2 separate regions of the Homo sapiens genome follow, and region 1 is linked to region 2. The links come from fine-mapping of genetic effects on gene expression. A gene starts in region 2. The other region holds a variant in brackets. All regions are shown on one strand. Distances are between the middles of the regions. Region 1 overlaps ASB13 (ankyrin repeat and SOCS box containing 13). Region 2 holds the start of ASB13 (ankyrin repeat and SOCS box containing 13).

What was found. PIP is the estimated chance that this variant, and not a neighbour inherited with it, causes the effect.
Region 1: its variant is fine-mapped to the expression of ASB13 in whole blood (TOPMed, PIP above 0.99). The same link has a PIP of 0.9 or more in tibial artery.

The regions. Positions count from the first base shown.
Region 1 is chr10:5,633,346-5,644,900 of GRCh38, forward strand. ASB13 (ankyrin repeat and SOCS box containing 13) reads right to left here. Exons shown (of 6, transcript NM_024701.4): 5 at 8,425-8,616; 6 at 5,522-7,485. The coding sequence ends at 7,358. Among named protein-coding and RNA genes, the nearest start is that of LINC02677, 21 kb to the left of the region's middle. The variant G/A (reference allele first, on the strand shown) is at 5,724.
Region 2 is chr10:5,660,849-5,672,403 of GRCh38, forward strand. It overlaps ASB13 (ankyrin repeat and SOCS box containing 13), which reads right to left and starts at 5,747. Exons shown (of 6, transcript NM_024701.4): 1 at 5,661-5,747. The coding sequence starts at 5,703. RefSeq lists an enhancer at 160-896 and silencers at 5,331-5,380, 5,681-5,750.

The sequences.
Region 1 (11,555 bases), 28 kb before region 2:
ACAGATTCCTAGAGGCTCGTAGGCAAAATCCCACGCTCTCCGGATGGCCAAATCTTGCCTTTTATGATCAAAGTCTCTCCCAGGTCTTTGAAAATCATAAGCATAAGAAGGATTACAGTAAGCCCTGTTATACATGTAAAATTCCATGGAATTAAGTCTCACTCTCTTCTTCGTGCCTGGTAGAAAAAGTATGAAGGAAAAGAAAAGTCACTTCAACAAATCTTCTGTTTCTTCATCCTCATCCCAGAAGAGTGCTGCCATTAATCAAAGTCGTTATAAAGCTTTGTAAACCACAGAGCACCATGGGAATCAAAATGAAGTTGTTCTTTATGCTATGTAATTGACTTTATTAATCCAAGACTTTAGAAGGTCAGCAGTCATCCCTCTTCTGTCTTCTCCAGTGTCCTTGGCAGAGTTAAGAGTCAAGTTTGCTCATGCCTTGTCCTGGTCTGCTGAGGCTGCTAAAACAAATTCTATATGGCTGGGCACAGTGGCTCATGCCTGTAATCTCAACACTTCAGGAGGCTGAGGAGGGAGGAATCCTTGAGCCTAAGACCAGCCTGGGCAACATAATGAGAACTTGTCTCTACAAAAGTTAAAAAATTAGACAGATGTGGTGGCACACGTCTGTAGCCTCAGCTACTCAGGAGGCTGACGTGGGAGGATCACTTCAGCCTAGGAGATTGAGATCATGCCACTGCACTCCAGCCTGCGCAACAGAGCAAGACCCCGGCTCAAATAAAAGCAAACAAAACCTAAACACTGGTGGTTTTTAAACAACAGAAATCTATTTCTCAAAGTTCTAGAGGCTGAGAAGTCCAGGATCCCTGCCTGGTGATGACTGCTCTCTTCTCCATAGACAGCGACTTCTTTCTGTGTCCTCATCTGCCTGAAGGGGCAAGGCAGCTCTCTGGCACCTATTTTTATTTTTGACACAGAGTTTCACTCTTATTGTGCAGGCTGGAGTGCAGTGGCACGATCTCGGCTTACTACAACCTCTGCCTCCCAGCTTCAAGCGATTTTCCTGCCTCAGTCTCCCAAGTAGCTGGGATTACAGGCGCCCGCCACCATGCTTGGCTAATTGTGTATTTTTACTACAGACGGAGTCTCACCATATTGGTCAGGCTGGTCTCAAACTCCTGACATCAAGTGATCAGCCCACCCTGGCCTCCCAAAGTGCTGGGATTACAGGTGTGAGCCAGTGCACCAGGCCTGGCACCTCTTTTCTAAGGGCACTGGTCCCTTTCAAGAGAGCTCTGCCCTCATAGCTAATCAGCACCCAGAGGCTCCACATCCTAATACCATCACTGTGGGGGTGGGGATTTGAACACAGGAATCTGGGGAGAGACAGACATTCAGACCACAGCATCCCCCAGCTCACCACATGATGAGGTGCAACATCTGTTCCTATACCTGCTCCCTGAAAAACAGACTCTGAGATGCTCGGGGCCAAGATTTGCTTTTATGTGTTCTCATATCATTAGTGCCCAGCAGAGAACTTAAAATAGAACAACTGGTAAAAAAAGGAAAGAAGAAGATGGGTGGGCTTGGATGGGGAAGATGGGGAAGAGGACCAAGGAGCAAGAGGATGTCCCTGCTTCTCCTCTGGTCTTACCCTCTGTCCCCAGCACAGTGGAACAAGCTTCGGGATTTGGATTCACACCAAGAACGGAGGGACTTTTCTTTGTTGATCACTCAGAGTGCAGATGGTGAAGCTAAGTGCACATCCTGGCTCAGCGTCCAGTGGCAGATTCTCCCCAGCCATGAAGTCCGTGTGCACAACAACCGCACACCTGGAGGCCAGATGCTAGAGTGAAATTGTATTTGAACGAATAAATGTGTACACAGGTGCGTGAGAGAGAGAGAGACAGAGACAGGCAGAGAGGCCTATCATCCATCTTTTCTGCCTTTTTTCATGGTTTGGAGAAAAAGGAGGCACTCTTTAGATTGGACCAATTTAAGACATCTTTTCATTCAACTTGTCGGAGATCACAAGACCTTCAAGCCAAAATCACTGAGGCCTCGCTGTCACTGTCATGTGGTGCTAATGTGGAGAAAAGAGAAAAGGCAAAGACTCCAGGGTCTGGAAATATTTTCTCAGCCATTACAGGGGGCACAGCCCCTGCCAGGGCCCTGTGCGCCCCACCTTCATCTCTCCACGGCACAGCTGCTCGAAAGATGAGCAAGCTGTCCAGCTTTGTTCTCAGAGCCAGTCTTACGCTCGTTTTTCCGAATAAAGGAACTCAACTGCCTAGAAGAAACAGGTGTTGCCCACTGGAGAGAAAGCACAAGCAGTTTAACAAAGTGGCCCAGGGCATGAAATGGACAGGGAAAGGCATTCTTTTCATCCCAAATGACTTCAGAGCTCTCTGCAGACTCACCTGGTAGCACAGATGGGATACCACAGGGAGCATTGCTATGGTCCAGGAGTAGACGAGATTCCACTCCCTCCCTGGAAGACCACGGGGAGCCCAGAGCTGAGCAAGAGATCCCACTGGGGATCCCACTGGGGTCTCTTGCTGTCTCCCTCACGACGCCTCCCACCTGCAGAAGGTGGGCAGCACCCCGCCTCCACGGGCTGGGGACAGAGGGTGCAGCTGCATTTTCTTACTGTGAAATGGCCCCTCAATTATGACCTCTCCAAAGGGGAGGGTTTGATACCAGGGACTTTGCCCAGAGCCAGACCTAGAAGACGCACCATTGTCCAGGGAGGGAGCCATACCAGCGCAGCGAGGCCAATCAGTGAGAGGCATTTTACCCAGCACTTTCCTACAGAGGAGATGAGGGTCGGCTCTGTGAGACAAACCTCAGGACACAGGGCTTTGCATACCTAGTTTGTCTGAGAGTAGTTCCAAAAAAAGTGTCAACACCCACTGTGGAATACAAGCTCCTATAACCAAAACCATGCCGTTGTGGCCAACAGGAATCTGAAAGGTGTTTGTAAGCACAACCGAGTTTCTAATTTTTTGGTTTTTTTGCCCTTCGTTGTTCCTCTATGCATTCAATTTTTATTATGAAAAAATCAAACATCAAAACACATGGAGAGTAACCCCATGTTTCTATTTGCCCCCCAACATGAGCAAATAGTAGCATTCTATCATGTGCTTCGTATCTTTTTTTTTTTTTTTTTTTTTTTAGAGATAGGGTCTCACTATGTTGCCGAGGCTGGTCTCGAACTTCTGAGCTCAAGCAATCCTCCCGCCTCAGCCTCCCAAAGTGCTGGGATTACAGGCGTGAGCCACTCTTCCTGGCCAACATCACTTTTTAAGAAATGCAATACAACAGAGGTGAAGTTCCCTGCGTTCCTATCCCCAAGCCACTGGTATCCCCATGATGCCAGTGTGTGGTTTCCATGATTTTATGTATTTACTGCATACGTATGAATTATTAGATGGGCTTTTTAAAAAAATTATACAAATTGACTCATACCATACACAGAAAAGTCTGGCAATTGTTTGATCGACCACTATATTTTTGAGATCTATTCGTGTTAAAACGTGTAGTTCTAATCCATCTTAACTTTTATCGAGTGTAGGTATGACATGTAAGATGTATATGATATTCTACATCTTACTCCCAACTGGTGGGGTTTTCACTATTACAGGTATCGCTGCAGTAAACAACCTCATACATGTCTCCTTGTGATATTGCCTGAGAGTTTCTTTAGGGTATTATTTATATAAAGTAGAATTACTGGGGACAAGGGGTATGCACATTTTTCATTGCATTAATATCAGCCAATAGCTCTCCAAAACAGACCTATCATCAATGTATTCCCCACTAGCAGCCTGTGCATTTCCATTTGCCCACATGGCCCACCCATCCACACTGTGAAACTCAGACCTTTCAATGACTGTCTCAATGGCGACATTCAATGGTAATCACTTTGTTGAATTAAATATTAATTTGAATTTCCCTGATCACTTCTCAGCATCCTTTCCTGGGAGTGGACATTTCAAGATCCCTCTTTTATAAAGCCCTGTTCTTATTCTTTGCCCAGTTTTTTTCTATTGGGTTGTTTATCTTTTCTTTTTTGTAGAAATGGGGTCTCTTTAGGCTGCCCAAGCTTGTCTCAAACTCCTAAGCTCAATCCTCCAGCCTCAGCCTCCCAAAGTGCTGGGATGACAGGCATAAGCCACAGCACCTGGCCCATTTTAATGATCTATCATAAGATCTTTATATATTTTGCTTGCCAATTACTTGTTATATATGTTGCAAACATCTGCTCCAAATCTGTCCACTGCACACTGCATTTGAAAATGTAAACTGAGAAGTCTTATGACTGCAGGACTCCTGAAATAGATGGTATGATCTTAAGGCGGGAATAGTTCACACAGCTGCAAGATCTACAAACATCAACAAAACCACACAACAGTCAATGTAACTTTCATATTTGGGGACCACTTTAGGCTTTTCAAGGCATCTTTTTTTTTTCTTTTTTGTGGGGACAGAGTCTCACTCTGTCTCCCAGGCTGGAGTGCAGTGGCACGATCTTGGCTCACTGCAACCTCCGTTTCCAAGTTCAAGCGATTCTCCTGCTTCGGCCTGCTGACTAGCTGGGATTACAACCATACACCACCACAGCTGGCTTATTTTTGTATTTTCAGTAGAGACAGGGTTTCAACATCTTGGCCAGGCTAGTCTCAAACTCCTGGCCCAAGTGATCTGCCCACCTTGGCTCCCCAAAGTGCTAGGATTATAGACATAAGCCACCCCACCCAGCCAAGGCATCTTTCAATCATTTAATTTCAGCCTCATAAAAACCTGAGGCGGCCGGGCGCAGTGGCTCACACCTGTAAACCCAGCACTTTGGGAGGCCGAGGCAGGAGGATCACGAGGTCAGGAGATCGAGACCATCCTTGCTAACATGGTGAAGCCTCGTCTGTACTAAAAATACCAAAAAAAAAAATTAGCCGGGTGTGGTGGCGGGTGCCTGTAGTCCTAGCTACTCAGGAGGCTGAGGCAGGAGAATGGCGTGAACCCAGGAGACGGAGCTTGCAGTGAGCCGAGATCGTGCCACTGCACTACAGCCTGGGCGACAGAGCGAGACTCCACCTCAAAAAAAAAAAAAAAAAACACAAAACCTGACGCTGGGGACCCAATCTCGTCCACCTGAGGTGACGGGCTTGGCTCAGTGGTTGGTCATCAAGACCCCTTCAATGCTCCAAGTCTGATCCATTATCTCGGTTTTGCAGCTTTCCGGAACAACTCAGAGTAGAGAAGCAGATAAACCTGTGTGCAGTCACAGCCCTGCATAAGGGCAGGGGAGGACCCAAAATCCCAGTCACCTGGTCCCGTGGACAGCGTCTGTCTCCCCCAAGAAAAGTCCACATAAGGGGGGTGCTGAAGTTGGCATCAGGAGACCTGGGGAAGAGATGGGAAAGTGTGGCTCCCTGGCAAGCACAGCGCTGCCAAACGACCTGGGACACAGCAAGACGAGAGCCACCCCTCTCCATCCACACAGGATGCGCCCATCTTGGTGTTTCTGCCCCATAAGAAAAGAGTCGTGTGAACACAGGGATGCACTTTATTCCGCCACTTTTATTGAGCAACAGCCGTGGGGACCTGATTCTGCGCTAAGTGCTCTACTGTGAGACATCACAGGTTGTCATTGCTAGAGGCAAGAATCTCTTACAAAGATGAAAGGGCAGAACCCAGTGCTTTTTTTAATGGTTGTTATTCCATGCAGAAACACTGACTGATCCAGAACTGGTAACTAAGGC[G/A]GTGATCAAACAGGAATGCTTTTCTTCTCAGTTTAGGACGAAGACCCGCCATGACAATGGCGGGAACGCTGGAGTAAAACCTCACGGCGGCCAGCATGAAGTTTTTCGCCAGATTTGTGGCCCCACCCCCAAGTACCCACGCGGAGAGGCCTCCAGTCATACAGCACAAAGGGCATCGCCTTGGGCAGCTCAGGCTCACTCTGTTCCACACTGTCTGCGGTGGGAGGCTCGGGCCGGCCTGGGTGCATCCAGTGAGTACCACGTTCCCTTTTCCCGGCACACTGTCTCCAGGACAGGCGTGACCTGTTCTCCAGAATGGGTAGAGATGGGGTTTCATCAAGTTGGCCAGGCTGGTTTCAAACTCCTGACCTCAGATGCCCCAGAAACCACTCATCCCTGAACTAATCATGCAAAGTCCTCCAGTTTAACTCCCTGTTGTGGGCGGGGTTCTTAAAATTTATGAAGGCAAAGACTCCTAGGCCGGCCCATGCAGTCTGAATACGCTACCGAATGCTCCACCTATGGCTTATAATGCAGAACGACCTGTTTCTATCACTGCAGGACGGGATTGCAAGATTTTCTTATCCTGCCTTGGCTGCAGAGTCCCATTCCCGTCCAACTCAAAGCACTGGGACAATGCTGGATGTGATAGATGGTCTTACTAATTTGATAGCTTCAAGGAGTTAGCAAACTGTAGGGTGGGTGAAGAATTCATTTGACAACCATAGAAACAGATGAAAAACAATTCCCACAGAGTCTCCAAACAGGCCTTTGCACTGAGAATGCCGAGCCACGAGAATATACACCTTGACACACCTTCACACTGCTGTCGGTTTGAATGGCTCATTACCAAAACCTTAGTGGTACCGCCTACGTGTCCTCTAAAAGGTTTTTATCCTACATATAAACTTTTTACAAGAGTTGGAGACCTAATACTGAAGACAAATTTCCTAAGAAACTCAGTGCTACTTGTGGGGAATACAAAGCCAGGGCCTTCCCCCACAAAGACCCATAGAAAGTCCCTGAGTGACAGATGCGCGCAGGCTTGGGGCTGGGGGATGCCTTGGAAAGTGCTCCAGGAAAAGCATCCACACAGCAGCCAGCAGAGCAGCAGTCCCAGGCCACATCCCAGGCCGACCTTCCGTGGGCCCAGCCATTCCCTATGAGCACCGAGGGCAGTCCTGGTGCCGACCCGGAGGTGGTGGCCTGCACCTGGGGCCTGTGCATCTGCGGCAGGCTGCCCCGGTGAGTGAGAATCAGCAACAATGCCCTCAGTCCCCAGCTCTGCCAGCCTCCTCTGTGCTCCCCACGCCGTCTGTCCTGAGAGTGCCTTTGAGGATGGTCCGTAAAAGAGGAAAACTGGATGGTTGGGCCCATGCCCATTGAGAGGGTAGGTTCTGTAGAACAGCGCAGGGCCACACCCACAACTGTGACCTGAGACGCAGGCCTTCCCAACACCCTGGAAACATTATCCAGGATCCAGGAGAGAAGCCTAAACAGGATCGCAGGAAGGGACTCGAAGGAGCGTTGTTCTATCTACAGCAATCACGCTGCTTCAGAGGAACAGGCAGAGCCCTCACCCGGGCAATGCTGGGCACAACGGGGGCAGCCACGGTCCGGACCCCACCTGCAATTCAGTTGTAGGAGAGGTAATCAATGAGCCGGGGCGGGATGTTTAACTTGGCAATCTTCTCCAGCCCTCGGACGCCAGTGGCCTTCCTCAAGTTCACCCTGCAGAGCTGTGACAGAGTCAGAGGTGTCTCTGAAAAAGGGAGCAAGGAAGGATGTGAGGTTAATTTCAGGAAGAAGCACAACACCTGCAATGGAACACAAACTCAGAGGGAATCGGAAACGCCTCCCTTTCCCCTGGAACCGGGATGTGTCCTGTAGGCCTTCTCTGGAAGGACAGCCAGGAACCCGAGGAAGGGAGCCCAGGAAATGAAGTTCGGGGCATGATGTCCACTGGGATTGCCTTTTGTGGGCTTTGGGAGTTTGTTTGGTTTTGAGGTTTTTTGTTTTTTGTTTTTTGAGACAGAAAAAAAGCGACAGAGGCAAGAATCTCTTACTCTGTCACCCAGGCTGGAGTGCAGCGGCACAATCTCAGCTCACTGCAACCTCCGCCTCCTGCATTCAAGCAATTCTCCTGCCTCAACCTCCCGAGTAGCTGGGATTACAGGCACCCACCACCATGCCCGCCTAATTTTTATATTTTTAGTAGAGATGGGGTTTCATCAAGTTGGCCAGGCTGGTTTCGAACTCCTGACCTCAGGTGATCTGCCCGCCTCAGCCTCCCAAAGTGCTGTGATTACAGGTGTGAGCCACTGCGCCTTTTCAAAACCATGGTTTTGGTTTTTTGAGACACGGCATTATATTTCAGCACCCAAACTTGTCATCAAACAACTAATCTGCAGCTAGGAGGCTCATCTGTCAAATGTCCAGCACAGGAGGCACAGGTCTGGTGCCCGGGCAGGTGTCGGCCACAGCTTCTGCTGCTCCACGCCACGGGCCACAGGGAACCCAGGGAGAGCTGGGGCAACAGCACAAACAGCCCCCGCAAAGTGCTTAAGGGTCTGTCCTAGCGCAGAGGACAGGAGCCAGGACTAACAGCCCAGCTCTCCGCGGAAGCCCACAGGGAGCCGGCACGTCAGGGGTCCAGGCTGAAGGCTGGAGGGGATGGGGTGCGCTCGGTGGGGTGTCTCACTTTCGTAGTACTCGAAGCACTTGGCGGGAGCGCTGCTGCTCCACGTGTAGTCAGACGGCTTCTTCCCGCGGTTGTCCCGGGCGTAGATGTTGCCGCCAAACTCGATAAGCATCTCGATGAGGTCAACATTCTTGACCTTGGCCGCGTGGTGAAGGGCAGTCTCATGAAGCTTTGCCGCATTCACGTTGGCCCCTGGAGGTCAAGAGTGCAGAAGAGATTTCACCAAGAAGAGAACTTGAAGTCAGGGGGACAATCAGGTCCGTTTCGTCACACAGCACGGTGGCAGAAGCAATCCCCACCCAGAAGACAAAATCAGGACAGACTCTACCGTAGCTTTCAAAAATGTTTTTCAACATCCAAAAGCAGGAACTACTTACTGTCCCCACTCATGAGAGATAAAGGTAGGCAGCAATAATAAAGAAATAACTAGAAATAGAACCGAAAAGAAGAAAAATAAAACGAAAAATGTCCTGAGTTAAACAACCGTTCTAATGCCCTATCAATCTGCCTTCAGGGGTCCTGAGATTTCCGGAAGCTCAAACCAGAGCCACTCAAGCACTCCCGCCTGGCCTCCAGCACAGACACACACTGCTTCTTCCTCTTGCGGGCCCAGGACGGAGGCTCCAGAAATACTGGTTGAATGAAAGAATAAATGTTCCTTAACAATGCATATTCTTTTACAAAAGGAAAACAGATAACGTACCCAAAACAGTAGGCAATTCAGAGAAGAGAGTAAGCTCTGCACTCCTCAACTTTCTCACGATAAGAGCAGACATTCATCAAGCTGATTAAAAGTAAAGGTAAAAAAAAATTTTTTTTTAAAAAAAAGAGCAGACATTCAGAAAGATGCAAGGAATTAGTAGCTAAATATGGCTGGTTTTGGGTTTTTTTTTTTGAGACAGAGTCTCACTCTGTTGCCCAGGCTGGAGTGCAGTGACATGATCTCGGCTCACTGCAACCTCCGCCTCCAGGGTTCAAGCGATTCTCCTGCCTCAGCCTCCCGAGTTGCTGGGATGACAGGTGTGCCACCATGCCCGGCTAATTTTTCTATTTTTTGTAGAGACGGGGTTTTGCCGTGTTGGCCAGGTTGGTCTCGAACTCCTGGCTACGGGCATGAGCCACCACACCTGGTCACATATGGCATTTTGCAACACACTAAAAAAAATTTTGATAAAAATATGATTTTTGTAACACATCATTCTTAGGGCACAGCCATCACTGATCCGATACAATGGAATCCCCCAGGGCTTCAGAATTCTTTTGAAAGAAAATGCCATTTTATTCGAAGTCTGTTCCTCAAGTAACAAAGGAGGTTATAAGAGAAAACAAATAAAAGAGAAGTGTTTTAAAGAAGCCAAGCAAATCGCCCAGCATCAGTAAAATAATTCGCCAAATGATAGATTCAAACCACAAACATAAAGTATTATCAAAAGTGGGATTTTAAAACAATCAGACACTAGCATGCCATCACTTCCCGACAGTCTCAGAGGGTCAAAAGAGGAGCTGAGAGGTGGAACGCTTTTACATTTTCTAGTTCCTCTAGCTCAAAAAGCATCGGAAAAATCCCGCTTTCTGCTTTAAAATATTTTAATCCCCTAAAAGCACATAAGAACCATGCTCATAACAGCATTCGTGGAGGGATCCTAAGAACGCCCCAGCCCTCCAAAGTGATGACATAATTTAAGAAAGTTCTTTCCACTTCCCGCAGCCAAAACTCAGAAGTCAGAACAGGAAAAGGATCTCTCAACTAGGAAAAATGCTAACTTATCTATGTCCTGAATTTGGCAGAAATGTACTACAAAAAAATAATATTCAAAAGCAATAGATTAAAGAAATATTTCCCCACAATTCAACCTCTCTTTCACATAAGGGGTTTTCCTCCAGTATAATGTTGCAATCATAACACGAAGTAAATTTTAACACTAAACATATGCTTGTAATGAAAAACAAATTGTACCATCCACAGAATCTAAAGTTCAAGTAGCTTTCTCTCATGTCATTAATTCTGGCAATATTCTTGCCAATTGGGAGAGAAAGAGATGGTCTCTATTTTAACAAAAGAAGAAAAACAGAGAAAGAGGCCCAAGGGAGGCACAGCTACTCTCTCACGATCAGGGAGAAAACCATGGCTGGAAAGAGCTCTAAAAATCACGCTCCCTGCCACGCTCCACAGACGAGGCCTTGGCCAGGGGCTCTTGCAGGGAGGCAGCCTTCCCAATGTACATCTTTTCAAAATGTGTGTTTGGCATCATTTGATTGGGTGGAAGGGAAGGAAGGTGAATAAGGAAGGAAATGAAATTGTGAATAAGGGATTGAAGGGAAACACCAGGCCAGGGGTGCAGGCAGCTACATGGATGGATCCTGAAAGTATAGCACTGAGTGAGCCAAGAAGAGAGTCAGAGATGAAACTCGATCAGCTATGTTCATTAAAAATATATGCTTGGGCCAGGTACAGGGCTCACGCCTGTAATCTCAGCACTTTGGGAATTCGAGGCGAGCGGATCTCTTGGGCCCAGGAAATCGAGACCAGCCTGCGCAACATAGTGAGACCCTAGCTCTACAAAAATTTAAAAATTACCCGGGGGGCGTGATGGCACACATCTGTGGTCCCACCTACTCTGGAGGCTGAGGTAGGAGGATCACTTGAGCCCGGGAGGTTGAGGCTGCAGCAAGCCACGATCGTACCACTGCACTCCAGCCTGGATGACAGAGTGAGGCCCATAGTGAGAAAGAGAACATAAACAGGTACTCGTTAGAGGAAAACAGGGCCAGACACGGTGGCTCATGCCTGTAATCCCAGCACTTTGAGAGCCTGAGGCGGGCAGATCACCTGAGGTCAGGAGTTCAAGACCAGCCTAGCCAATATGGTGAAACCTCGTCTCTACTAAAAATCCAAAAATTACCTGGGCGTGGTGGTGCACATCTATAATCCCAGCTACTCAGGAGGCTCAGGCATGAGAATCGCTTGAACCAGGGAGATGGAGGCTGCAGTGAGCAGAGATCACACCACTGCACTCCAGCCTGGGTGACAGAACGAGACTCCATCTCAGAAAAAAAAGAAAGAAAGAAGGGAACAGATACAGAGGAAAGAAGGAAGAGAGAAAGAGGGTAGGAGAGGGAAAGAAAGTAAC
Region 2 (11,555 bases):
TCTGAGACCAGAGCCCCTCCATCGCTCCCTGCCTTGCAAGCCACCCAGCAGTGTGCCGGGCCATCTCGCCAGCTGGCTGCTGCACAGCCAGGTTCTGCTGGCCGGAGACCACCAGCAGCTTGAAAGCAGCCAGGATGTGAGTATTTAGACCAGGGAAAGCAGCAAAGCAGACTTTTATTTTTGTTTCTTTTTCTTTATTTTCCCCCTAGGCAGCTGGTTTGCCAGTATCTCCTCAGTCATCCCAGAGCCAGAGCCCCACTCGTTGGGCCCAAGTGGCAGCTCTGTGCCCAGGCCCGGCCACCCCCTAGAGAGCCTGTGTCTAGGAGGCAGCTGGCCTGCTGGCCCCTGCACACTGCAGAGCTGGGCACCTCCAGAGCCCATCCTCCACACTGCCCTGCCTGCACCCACACTGGCGGGCCTCACTTGACCCACACAGGGACTGCAACCATAAAAGCAGCAGAGCCACTTGCCCCCAACCCCGCCCCGCCGAGCCTGGGGCCTCTCCAGGGTCAGGGCCCACTCCAACAAAGAGCATTCTCAAATGCCACCAGGGACACCTTCCAGACAAAGCTGATCCAGTAGCATGCTGGCTTTGAATCCAGGTCAAATACCCAAGATGCACCTTTTTTCCTATTTTGTTTTCTTATTGTTTATTTATTTATTTTTGAAACAGGGTCTCGCTGTCACCCAAGCTGAAGTGCAGTGGTGTGATCAGGGCTCACTGCAGCCTCAACCTCCTAGGTTCAAGTGATCCTCCCACCTCAGCCTCCCAAGTAGCTGGGACTACAGGCCCATGCACCACCACCACACTGGATAATTTTTGTATTTTCTGTAGAGACAGGGTTTCACCATGTTGCCCAGGCTGGTCTCAAACTCCTGGGTTCAAGTGATCCTCCCGCCTTGGCCTCCCTAAGTGCTGGGATTACAGGCATGAGCCCCAGGCCCAGCCCAGAATGCACTCTTAAATGTTGCTGGAGTCAGAAATTTTGTTCCGAGTAAATCACCAAGGGGAGTCTGGGGTCCTGGCTGCAGAAATGTCATTTCTGCGTCAAAAACAACCAGCAGCCTCTGTAAGAAGCCCTCCCTGCAAAACCCCAGTAAGCATTCTTGAAATGGTGAGGGTGGGCCCTCCACCCTGACCCACCCATAAAGCCGGGCTGGGGCGGGCGAGCACACACTTGGGGAACCCACCCTGGAAGAACCAAGGCAGGCACCGGAAGCCCCCAGGGAGGGTTTTCTGATGCTGCTCTCAATGGGCTCATCCTCAGCTCTCAGGGAAAAGTCAAGAGTCCTGAGTGACATAGCCCCCCAGGGTCCCAGAAAGCTAAGGATTCATGAACACGCGCTGACTGTCAGAACTGAAAAGGCCTTAGAAATGCTGGACGATGGGCTGGGCGCAGTGGCTCACGCCTGTAATCCCAGCACTTCGGGAGGCTGAGGCAGGCGGATCACCTGAGGTCAAGAGTTCGAGATCAGCCTGGCCAACATGGCAAAACCCCATCTCTACTAAAAATACAAAAATTAGCTGGGTGTGGTGGCATGCACCTGTAATCCCAGTAATAATCCCAGCTACTCAGGAGGCTGAGACAGGAGAATCGCTTGAACCAAGCAGTGGAGACTGCAGTGAGCTGAGATCGTGCCACTGCACTCCAGCCTGGGCGACAGACTGAGACTCTGTCGAGAAGGGGGGGGGAGGGGAGGGGAGGGGAGGGGAGGGGAGAAGAGAAGAGAAGAGAAGAGAAGAGAAGAGAAGAGAAGAGAAGAGAAGAGAAGAGAAGAGAAGAGAAGAGATGAGATCCTGGATGATTAACACTCCCAGAAAAAGCCAAATGTAGCATCCATTCATCTCTGCCTGCTGTCCAAACCACACACAAGTGACGGTAAGGGAATAAAATGGGGGCTAAATCCACAAAGACAAAGAGACCACAGAGGAAAAGATAAATGAAGGATCTCATGGTGACAACTAAAGACAGTGTACGTGACAACCCCAGCACAAAGAGGGTGCCTAACGCATGGCACTTAACCACTATCACCAAATTTTAATAGCGCAGCTCAAATTTCAGTTTTAGTGTCCTTGAAACCCAAGGAAAAAAAATATGGATCTTTATTTTTCTATGTAGAAACTCCCACTTACAAGTCTGGGCTCAGTGTTTTGTTGCTACAGTGATATTTTTCAACCATGTCTTTTTAAATGTTTTCATTATGAATCCCCAAAATATAGTTTGTCGGTAAACTTGAGGTCAAACAGCAGACTGATTTTAAGATGTGTTCAATGAAGCAAAAATGCCAGTATTTGCCTTCTTAGAGGGACAAAATGGTCAAAACTCAGTAAGAGTGGAGAAAAGAAAGGGAAAGAATAAATGAAAGCAGAAGACAAGGAGAAAAGAGGTGAAAATAGGTGGGCTAAGGAGTAAAGGAACTGGGAGAAAGGACCGAAGGTGTCAGGAGAGCTTGGTGAATAACAGGCATTTCCTTCCACCTGCAGGACGCTAAAACCACACTGGATTCGCTGCATTATCCTTCAATGTCTCCTCCCCTGACTCCCTCATCACTCACCCAATTATCTGCTACCCCGACTCCTCCCTTGCCCCTGGTCCACCCCAAAGGCTATGGCCCAGGGAGCATGGGGAGGGTCCCCCAGTCCCACCCTCAAGGCACTGTGGGAGCTCAGGCCCTGACTCAGGACCCCTGAGCTCTGATCCTGCATCCTCCCTGTCTCAGTTAAGGGACCTGAGGGACGCTTTTCACCCTAAATCACCTAAGCCTCAGTTTCCTTAGGACAGCAGGCAATGTCTCCCAGGGCTGCCGAGTCGAGGAGGAGGATAGAGGTACTGTTTTGCCCATAAACATGCTTCCTAAGCCTTTGTAACTTGCTAATTTCCTCTGATACTTCCATTGGCCCTAAATAGGCTTTTCTGGTGTGTCAACAGGCCCTCTTTGAATTCCTATTTTAGGATAAAATAGCCGCCCACTCCAAGTAACTCTCTACCCTTTAGAAATGCCCTGGACTGCTACCCTAGTGGATTCTCCCTCTCCCCGCTCTGACACTGAAATCAAGAGCGATAGAGCTGTGTTTCTGATTAAACACGGAGGATCTTCTCTGCCCCTCAGCAAAGATCTCACTCAACTGAGAGTACCTGGATGGGGAGACATAAATCCATATAAACAAGTAGAAAACAAACAGGCTGGGGAGTGATTTCCAGACCATCGGGGGAGCTGGAGAGCAGGCTGGTGCAGTGGCTAACCAGGATACAGAAGGCGGGCTTGGCACCCGGGGTTGGGACCAGCAAAGAGCAGGGAATCTGAACTACCCCTGGGAGGGCACTGAACGCAAAGGGATGCGCAAATCCCCATAAACAACAGGAAGACACCCCTGCCCCACCCCCACCCCGGCTTCCCAGAGCAGCAGCAGGCAGAGCTGGAAGACCCAAGGCTGCAGGGCACACGTCTCCAAACACTGAACCAGGAGAGAGAGAACACAGGACTCATTGCTTACCTGAGGGGCCTAAGAAGACTGTCTGGGGATAAATTAGGGATTAGGCATGGAGAACACCGAACCCACAGGTAAACAAAAAGAACACCCGCCATGTCCAAGAAAAGCAAGACATTACACAAAAAGAGAAACATAGTCCCCACATAGCAAGTGGCTCAGCTGCAATATTCACAGTCACAATAATGTCAACACTGAAATCTGATTTAAACAAAAACAATTCTACTGGAGGACCCTGGGGGGAACGTACGGGGGAGTGGGGGAGCAGCCAGTAGGTTAGAGGTTCATCTACCACAGAAGGACGTCCATAGGGAATGCAGAATTTCTTTATTTCTTTATTTATTTATTTTATTTATTTTTGAGACGGAGTCTCACTCTGTCGCCCAGGCTGGAGTGCAATGGCATGATCTCAGCTCACTACAACCTCTGCCTATCAGGTTCAAGTGATTCTCCTGCCTCAGCCTCCCCAGTAGCTGAGATTACAGGTGCCCGCCACTATGCTTGGCTAATTTTTGTATTTTTATTTATTTATTTTGAGACAGAGTTTTGCTCTTGTCACCCAGGCTGGAGTGCAATGGCCCAATCTCGGCTTACTGCAACCTCTGCCTTCCAGGTTCGAGTGATTCTTCTGCCTCAGTCTCCCAAGTAGCTGGAACTACAGGCACCCGCCACAATGCTCGGCTAATTTTTGTATTTTTAGTAGAGACGGGGTTTCGCCATGTTGGCCAGGCTGGTCTCGAACTCCTGACTTCAAGTGATCCACCTGCCTCGGCCTCCCAAAGTGCTGGCATTACAGGCATGAGAGACTGCGCAACAGCCCAAAACCTAAATGTTTTGGTCGCGGTACACCACACATCCAGAATTTGAGGTCAGAATGTTAAAATTGTCTAAAGCTCCTACGGTTCGCCTCTGGTGCTGCTGGAATGGCAGTATTGTTTTGGATCCAACACATTCAGCTTATTCATTACACTGGGAATAAAAAACATCAGCAGAACTTATTTGGGGAGAAATATATTAAATAAAAAATGACAATGTCAAAAATACCAGTGAACCTCAAAAGTTGCGGATTCATTAGTTTAAAATGTGCCTTTCTTCTACAGATGCATTCCATAACAAACGATGCAGAAGACATGCTCAGAAGTGATGCCATGAACAGAAATATTAAAATATGTGTTTAAATAAGCTTCTGCCGTTAGCTATTCACTGCTTACTCAATTAAGCTAATCAAATGCAGATCACAGTGTCAGGGTCAAAGTCTTGTGCTTGCCTGGACTGGAATGCCAAGTAAAAACACATGCTTATTAGATACCTTTGATCATGTCAAAGGTGGTTATTTTGCAAAGTCAATTAAAATATCTTTGCCTTGCTATGACTGCAACTTCCTCTTCAGCTAAATTTACCCTTAAGACTTTTCCCTCTTAGGTGCACTACTGTTTTTACCAGGATGAATATGCTTTAGATTTTTTTTTTCTTTTTAGGCTTTCATAGTGCTTCCGTCGCTCATTTCAGTGACCATATTATTGCTTCATAGGCAGCAAAAAAATTTGCTTCCCCAAAGAGTGTCCTTCCCTCAAATCCATTTCATTCTTGGGCTGCTCGGATTTTGGTAAAGTAGGCTGCGAACTGGGATGGCACTTTTCGGAGTGTGCCGGGGTGCCCCAAGGCCACCTTCACTGGAGCGGAGTCGGGGTCACGCGGACGCCTCTGCAGGATGCTCGGACACTGCGCCACGGCCTCACCCGCGCCAGTGGAGGGGGGTTTAGCTCTTACCGTGGGCTCGCGCCTGGCTTCCCCGAGAGGGAGCACCGTGGGCGTTTCCCAGGCTCTCCCCCGCCACTGGGCAACGGCCCCGCACGCGTCCCGCACCTTCCCCAGGGCGCGCGGCGCTCGGTGGGTTTGCGGTTGCGAAACCCCACACCTGGCGAGCCGCACGGACTGCAACCCCGCAGTGCGCTGGCCTGGGACAAGGCACCAGACATGAGAGCCCGTCTGGGATGCGCGGCACCACTGGGACCCTGCTTTCACCGCGGCCCACCCCGCCAAACGCCCCCGCCCACGGAGCCAGCGCGGGGCGCGCCACCACCTCCCCGGCGCAGGCCATCGGATACGCGGCCGGCCTCAGGAGCCGGCGCCGCTGCCTCGCTCTGACCTCCGCGGCGCCCGCACGTACCCACGTCGCCCAGGAAGCAGCCGTCCGCCGCCCGGGGCTCCATGCGGCTCACCGGCGGCCGCGCGGCGACTCTGGGCGCCGGGACCTGGGCCGGGCCGCGCGGGGCCGCTGGGCGGGGCCAGTCTGCGCTGGGCCGCGCGTCGTCCCGAGGCGACCGAGCCGGGAGTTGTAGTTCCCGCCGCCTTGGCGAGGTTCCCGGAGGCGCTGTCCCTGGGTCCGGACTCCGCTGTCGCTGCCCACCCCGCTTCGCCCGTCGCGCCGAGGAGTGTGTGTGCTTGCATCTGCAAACCGTGCGTCCCGTGCACAGAATACGTCCGGTGCAAAACGTGTCCTGTGCACTTGTCCTATGTAAACGTGTGTGTCCGTGTGCAAAACATGCATCCTGTGCATATGTCCTGTGCAAAACATGCGTCCGTGTGTAAACTTGTATCCATTGTAAGCATGCTTCCCTGTGTCCCTTTGCAAAGCATGGATATGTGTTTCCATGTGCAAAACATGTGTCCTGTACAAAACATGCATCCTGTGCATGTGTCCTGTGCAAGCGTGTCCTGTGCAAGCGTGTGCAAAACATGTGTCCATGTATAAACATGTATGTATTGCAAATGTGTCCTGTGCAAGCATGTGTCTGTGTCCACGTGCAAAGCATGCGTCTAGCTTCCAGAGTTCACTTGCATTGTACAGATGCTGATGATGCTCCAGAGTACTCGAGTTCCCCCATGCTTTAACTTTCAAGAACCGCTTCCCACCAGAGCCGGTGTTCATAATCACTGTTTCTTTGATCTTTCAAGATAATAATTTCAAATCGTTCAAATCAATTTCTTAATGCCTTTTCTTTACGGGTGGTTTTTAATCCAATGTTCCCCTAAGCTGCTTAGCAAATGGAAGCTGGGGCACAACCTGGCAGAAATGAAAAACCTGTTTCCTGTTTCCGGAATAATACCCAGTCAACAATTGAGTAAGGGATTTTTATTTTATTTATTTATTTTTGCAAAGCAGCTTCCCAAGTTTAGAAGGTTTAACCTTGTGAAAGTTCACTGTAGCCCTGTCAGGAGATTCGTCACTCACCTGACCTGTACTGAACCTCCATGCAGAAGTTAGTTTGGGCTCAAAAGTAAAAGTATCAGGAATCATCCAGTCTGGAAATAGGTGAGGCCTGGCAGAGCAGCCAGTTTGATCTCTCACACTACAAAGCTTCTGGGATGACCCAGGTCTCCATCTGCAGTCCAGACCGAAGGCACTATACCTAGGGGACATTGAACCATATCTTTTGGAAAGCAGAGCCCCTGGAAATGTGGAGCCCCAGGCCTGGGAATGGAATTTCAAGCCATTTGCACTGGGCATTTAGAGCCTTTTTGCCACTTTCTACCAAAATCAGGCTCCTGCATTTTTCTTGCCGGTTTTCTGCACTTTTTACTAAATGTAACAGATTTTTGTATCGTTATATTTACCATGGATGTTATGTTTTCCCCTGTGGCAATGTCGTGTTTGTATGATTGCATTTTCTTCAATATTTCTTCCTGGACGAAGTGTCATCTAAATTTTAGTATGATCATGTAGAACATATATATATATGTGTGTGTGTATATATTCATATGTGTATGTGTGTTATCCAAGTGTTTCCTAAACATATTAATAAGCAAGTATTTGCTTATTATTTGTTTTTCCTCCATTCTGTTGCTTGACCAAAATATTAAAAGATTTCATTACAGAAAAAGCTTTGCAAAGTTTACATATATATTCAGAAATGCATTCCCTGAAAGTATTTCCTTTTTCTTCAATATTTAGAATGTATTTCCCCAGCAAGAGCCAGAAAATATAAATTATTCTGTTCTGTTCTGTTGTTGTTGCTAAGTCTTTGAGTCCCATCTGGAATTCACTGCAATGTGTAGAATGAAAATATAGGAGCTCAGTTCATTCTTTTCTAAACTGAAATAGAGTTTTTCCAAAAATATTCATTAAATAGTAATCCACTTATCTATTTTTGTGTTAATCTCTTTTTATTGCATGTTGGTTCCAATTACCTTTTGAATCTATTGTAAGAACCTCTATGATATTGACAAAGTTTCTATTACTCATTTAGCAAATATTTGCTGATTACCTAGCCTAAGGTCTGTGATTTTTAAACTAACTACCACATGTGGTTTTTTGTTGTTGTTGTTTTTTGAGACGGAGTCTCACTCTGTCCCCGAGGCTAGAGTGCAGTGGCACCGTGTTGTCTCACTGCCATCTCCGTCTCCTGGGTTCAAGCAATTCTCTGGCCTCAGCCTCCAGAGTAGCTGGGATTACAGGTGCCCACCACCACACCCAGCTGGTTTTTAAAATATTTTTAGTAAAGATGGGGTTTCACCATGTTGGAAGTAAATGTCATTTTATAAGATCATAACTTTTGTATCAGCATTTTAAAATCTGATAAGACCGCTATTTGGAAAGTGGTGTAGTTGGGGACCCCCTACACATTGTTAAATGAGATGTGTTAACCCCTGGTTTTTCTAATAAAGACAGTCTTCATACCACATTTTTAGAGTCTTCTAGGTCATAAGATACTCTTCTTTTGCCTCCAAAATAAATAGCTTGGGTGAGGACTAAATTTTTAGGAAATCCAATTCTATTTGCTTGGATAAGCCATTTTTCCTAAATTTACTAACTCGAGAAATCAAGGTTTTGTTAAACATGTATATTTCTGGGTTTCTCCTGGAGATTCTGGGCTCCAGGGAGAGACGGGGAGGCAGCCCTATAATTTTTTTTAACTATTGCTGCAAGTTTGGCAATCACTGGTATAACCCATCCTCCAAAGGCTGTGAAGAAGCATTTCATTTACAATTTATATTGACTGATTCTATTCCTAAATATAAGAGTATTGAAAAATATATAGGGTTCTTCAAGTTTTGGTTCCTCTCTCCAATCTTCCTGCCATTGTTAACTTTTCCGAGTCCTTAGGAAGTTGCTGGGTGCAGTGGCACACACCTGTAATCCCAGCTACTTGTGAAAATCGCTTAAACCCAGGAGTTTGAGACCAGCCTGGACAACAAAGTGAGTCCCCCATCTCTAAAAAAAATTAAAAAAAAAAAAACAAAGCCCTTAGGAAGTTGTTTTTGGTAGCTTGTCTGGTTTTTATTTGTAGCTGTGGCAGACAGAGACTGTAATGGGCTGTCACCATCTTGGCTGGCACAAGAAATCCTGATCTGATTGGATTTAAGGAAAACAAAGTCATCAGTTTAGGGTTTTCTCCAGCTCAAAGACCAGGCCAGGGACCAGAAATCTTATATGGCCACCCTGCAAGAAACCCTTATCTCTCGTAGCCACACAGCCAAGATTTCTGAAAGCTAAACTCAAAGTATAAGCTTGCAGGTGACTGAAACAATGCAGATTCTATTCTCAACTCTGCAGAGTCTCTCATGGTAAAGGTAGAGAACTAATTGGAAAGGAGTGGGATGCTGAAGAATGGAATGGGAGCAAATGGGCAGATTTTCATGAAGCTGAAGACCTTAAACCCCTGAATTCTGCTGAGCCTTCTTTGGCCAGTAGAAGGAATCCACCTGTGCTTACTCAGAGGGTTAATCTTGCCTGATGAATCTATGATGGCCTCACCAGTGGAAGCTGATTTGCAAAGAGCTGGGGATCCTCCTCAGGATCTACCCCCCACCTCACCTGTCACTGCTTCTAGACCTGTAACCCAGACTCGGCCTGCCCGGCCCTGAAAGGTAAGTAAGGTTCAGAGGGGTTTGAGGCCTAATAAGGCACAACACGCACCATAAAAGTTGCAAGATTTTTGCCAAGTGACATTGGCAGAAATCTGTAGAACTTATATAGGAATGGATCAAAGGGATACTGGATTAGATTGGAAGGAAAATAATGTTGGATCAGGCCAAAATTTTTAATCAGGTTTACCACATCACAATTCTAAAGTCAGTTTGCTTGTTCAAATGGCTAGGCATGTTTCTACAGGTGAAATGCCAGAACTTTCTCAGTACACTTTGGAAAAATGTCTCCTAAAGGCTTAGAATGCTGGAGTAGATTTTTCATGTAAAACCTGTCCACCCATCGCCTAACTCTGGCTCTCAGAATCTGAAGAAAACCCCCTCACAAGACTGAGAAGTCCATTTGTCAGGACGGTGGGGGTCGGGGGTGGGGGCTTCTTAATCCTTGGGGAGTCTAGGTCGGTAATGATGGTGGGGAAGTTGCTGTCATTAAGCTTTACTCGCTGAATTCACTGGGAATGATAGAATCTGATGACTGAGTGGTGGCACTTAATTGCCAAAGCCAGTGTGGGACCAGCTGCCATCATGGGCAGCAGAACTGGCACAGTCATCCAGATGGTCTGTCCTCAGAGATCTTGGGCAATGATTAGTCAGTGACAGCATCCCTAGAGCTGAAACACATGGCAGCCTACTGAAGCCTTACTTGATTTTTACAAGCAGGAAAGCTCTAGGTCTGGCGAAGAGCAGTAAAGAAAAATCATTTTAATAGGGAGTTTCAGCCTCCCAACCAATTCCTAGAGTTGAGCCAGTTCACAGACCCAGAGCTCCTTGAATGAAAGTGGGTCCAGGTACACCTGAACTCTGAGCCACAGAGTTTGTACTGTAACTCGTCCTCCTGACCTTCCCAAAGAATCTCATGGATATTTACTAGGTTGTATATTGACTATGCACTGAAGAAAGGGAAATAACGACTACTCAGCAATTGCGGGTCAATGGCTCTGAACTGACACTAATTCCTGGAGAGCTAAAATACCACTATGTCTATCAGCTAGAATACTAGTTGATAGAAAAAATGATCAGTCGAGTTTGGGCATAGGTTCGTCTCAGATAAGCCAGTGGGTTCTTGAATCCTGTAGTTATTTCTTCAGTTCCAGAATGCATCATTTGAATATATCTACTAGAAACTGGCAGAGTCCCTACATGGATTCTCTGAGCCAAGCAGAAGGCACTGAAACTGCCTCTATCTACCAACATAGGAAAAAGGCATTTCACATTGCTGGAGGAATTGCAGAGTTTAGTGCTACCATCAAGAACATGAACCACCGTGCCTGTAATCCCAGCACTTTGGGAGGCTGAGGCAGACGGATCACGAGGTCAAGAGATCAAGACCATCCTTGCCAACATGGTAAAACCCCGTCTCTACTAAAACTACAAAAATTAGCTGGGCGTGGTGCCGCAAGCCTGTAGTCCCAGCTACTCGGGAGGCTGAGGCAGGACAATCGCTTGAACCCAGGAGGTAGAGGTTGCAGTGAACCGAGATCACGCCACTACACTCCAGCCTGGCGACAGAGTGAGACTCTGTCTCAAAAATAAAAAAACAAAAAACAAAAACAAAAAAACAAAAAAAAAAGCATGAAAGATGCAGGATGGTGACTCCCCCTGCTCCCACCCACCCCATTTCCATTCAAATTACATAATTTTGCCTGTGCAGAAGACAGGCAGTTTCTGGGAGAATGACAGTGGATTATTATAAACTTCATCAGAGGTGAAGCTGCTGTTTCAGAAACGGTTTCATTGCTGGTATTCAGCTATTGGTCTGATGAATGCGTTCTCTGGCTACGTGGTTACACGTGGTTAGTGAAGACCATGAGGAACAGTTTGCTTCCAGCTGGCTGGGGCAGCAATTCACCATCACTCTCTCACCTCAGAACTTTATCAACCTTCTGATTTTATGTCATAATCTGATCTGCAGAAATCTTGGCTGCCTCTCCATTCACCAGGCTATGACTCCCATCGAGTGTTTTGATGATACCAAGCTGATTGGATCTGATGAGCAGGAATTAGTGTCTACTGTCAGCATTTCAGTAAGACGCATGCATGCCAGAGGGTGGGACAGAAATTCAAATTTCTATTGATCTGGGGCATGTCAAGATACACCTCCCAAAGTAAAGGGAAGGGGCTGCATCTGACCCCTCCA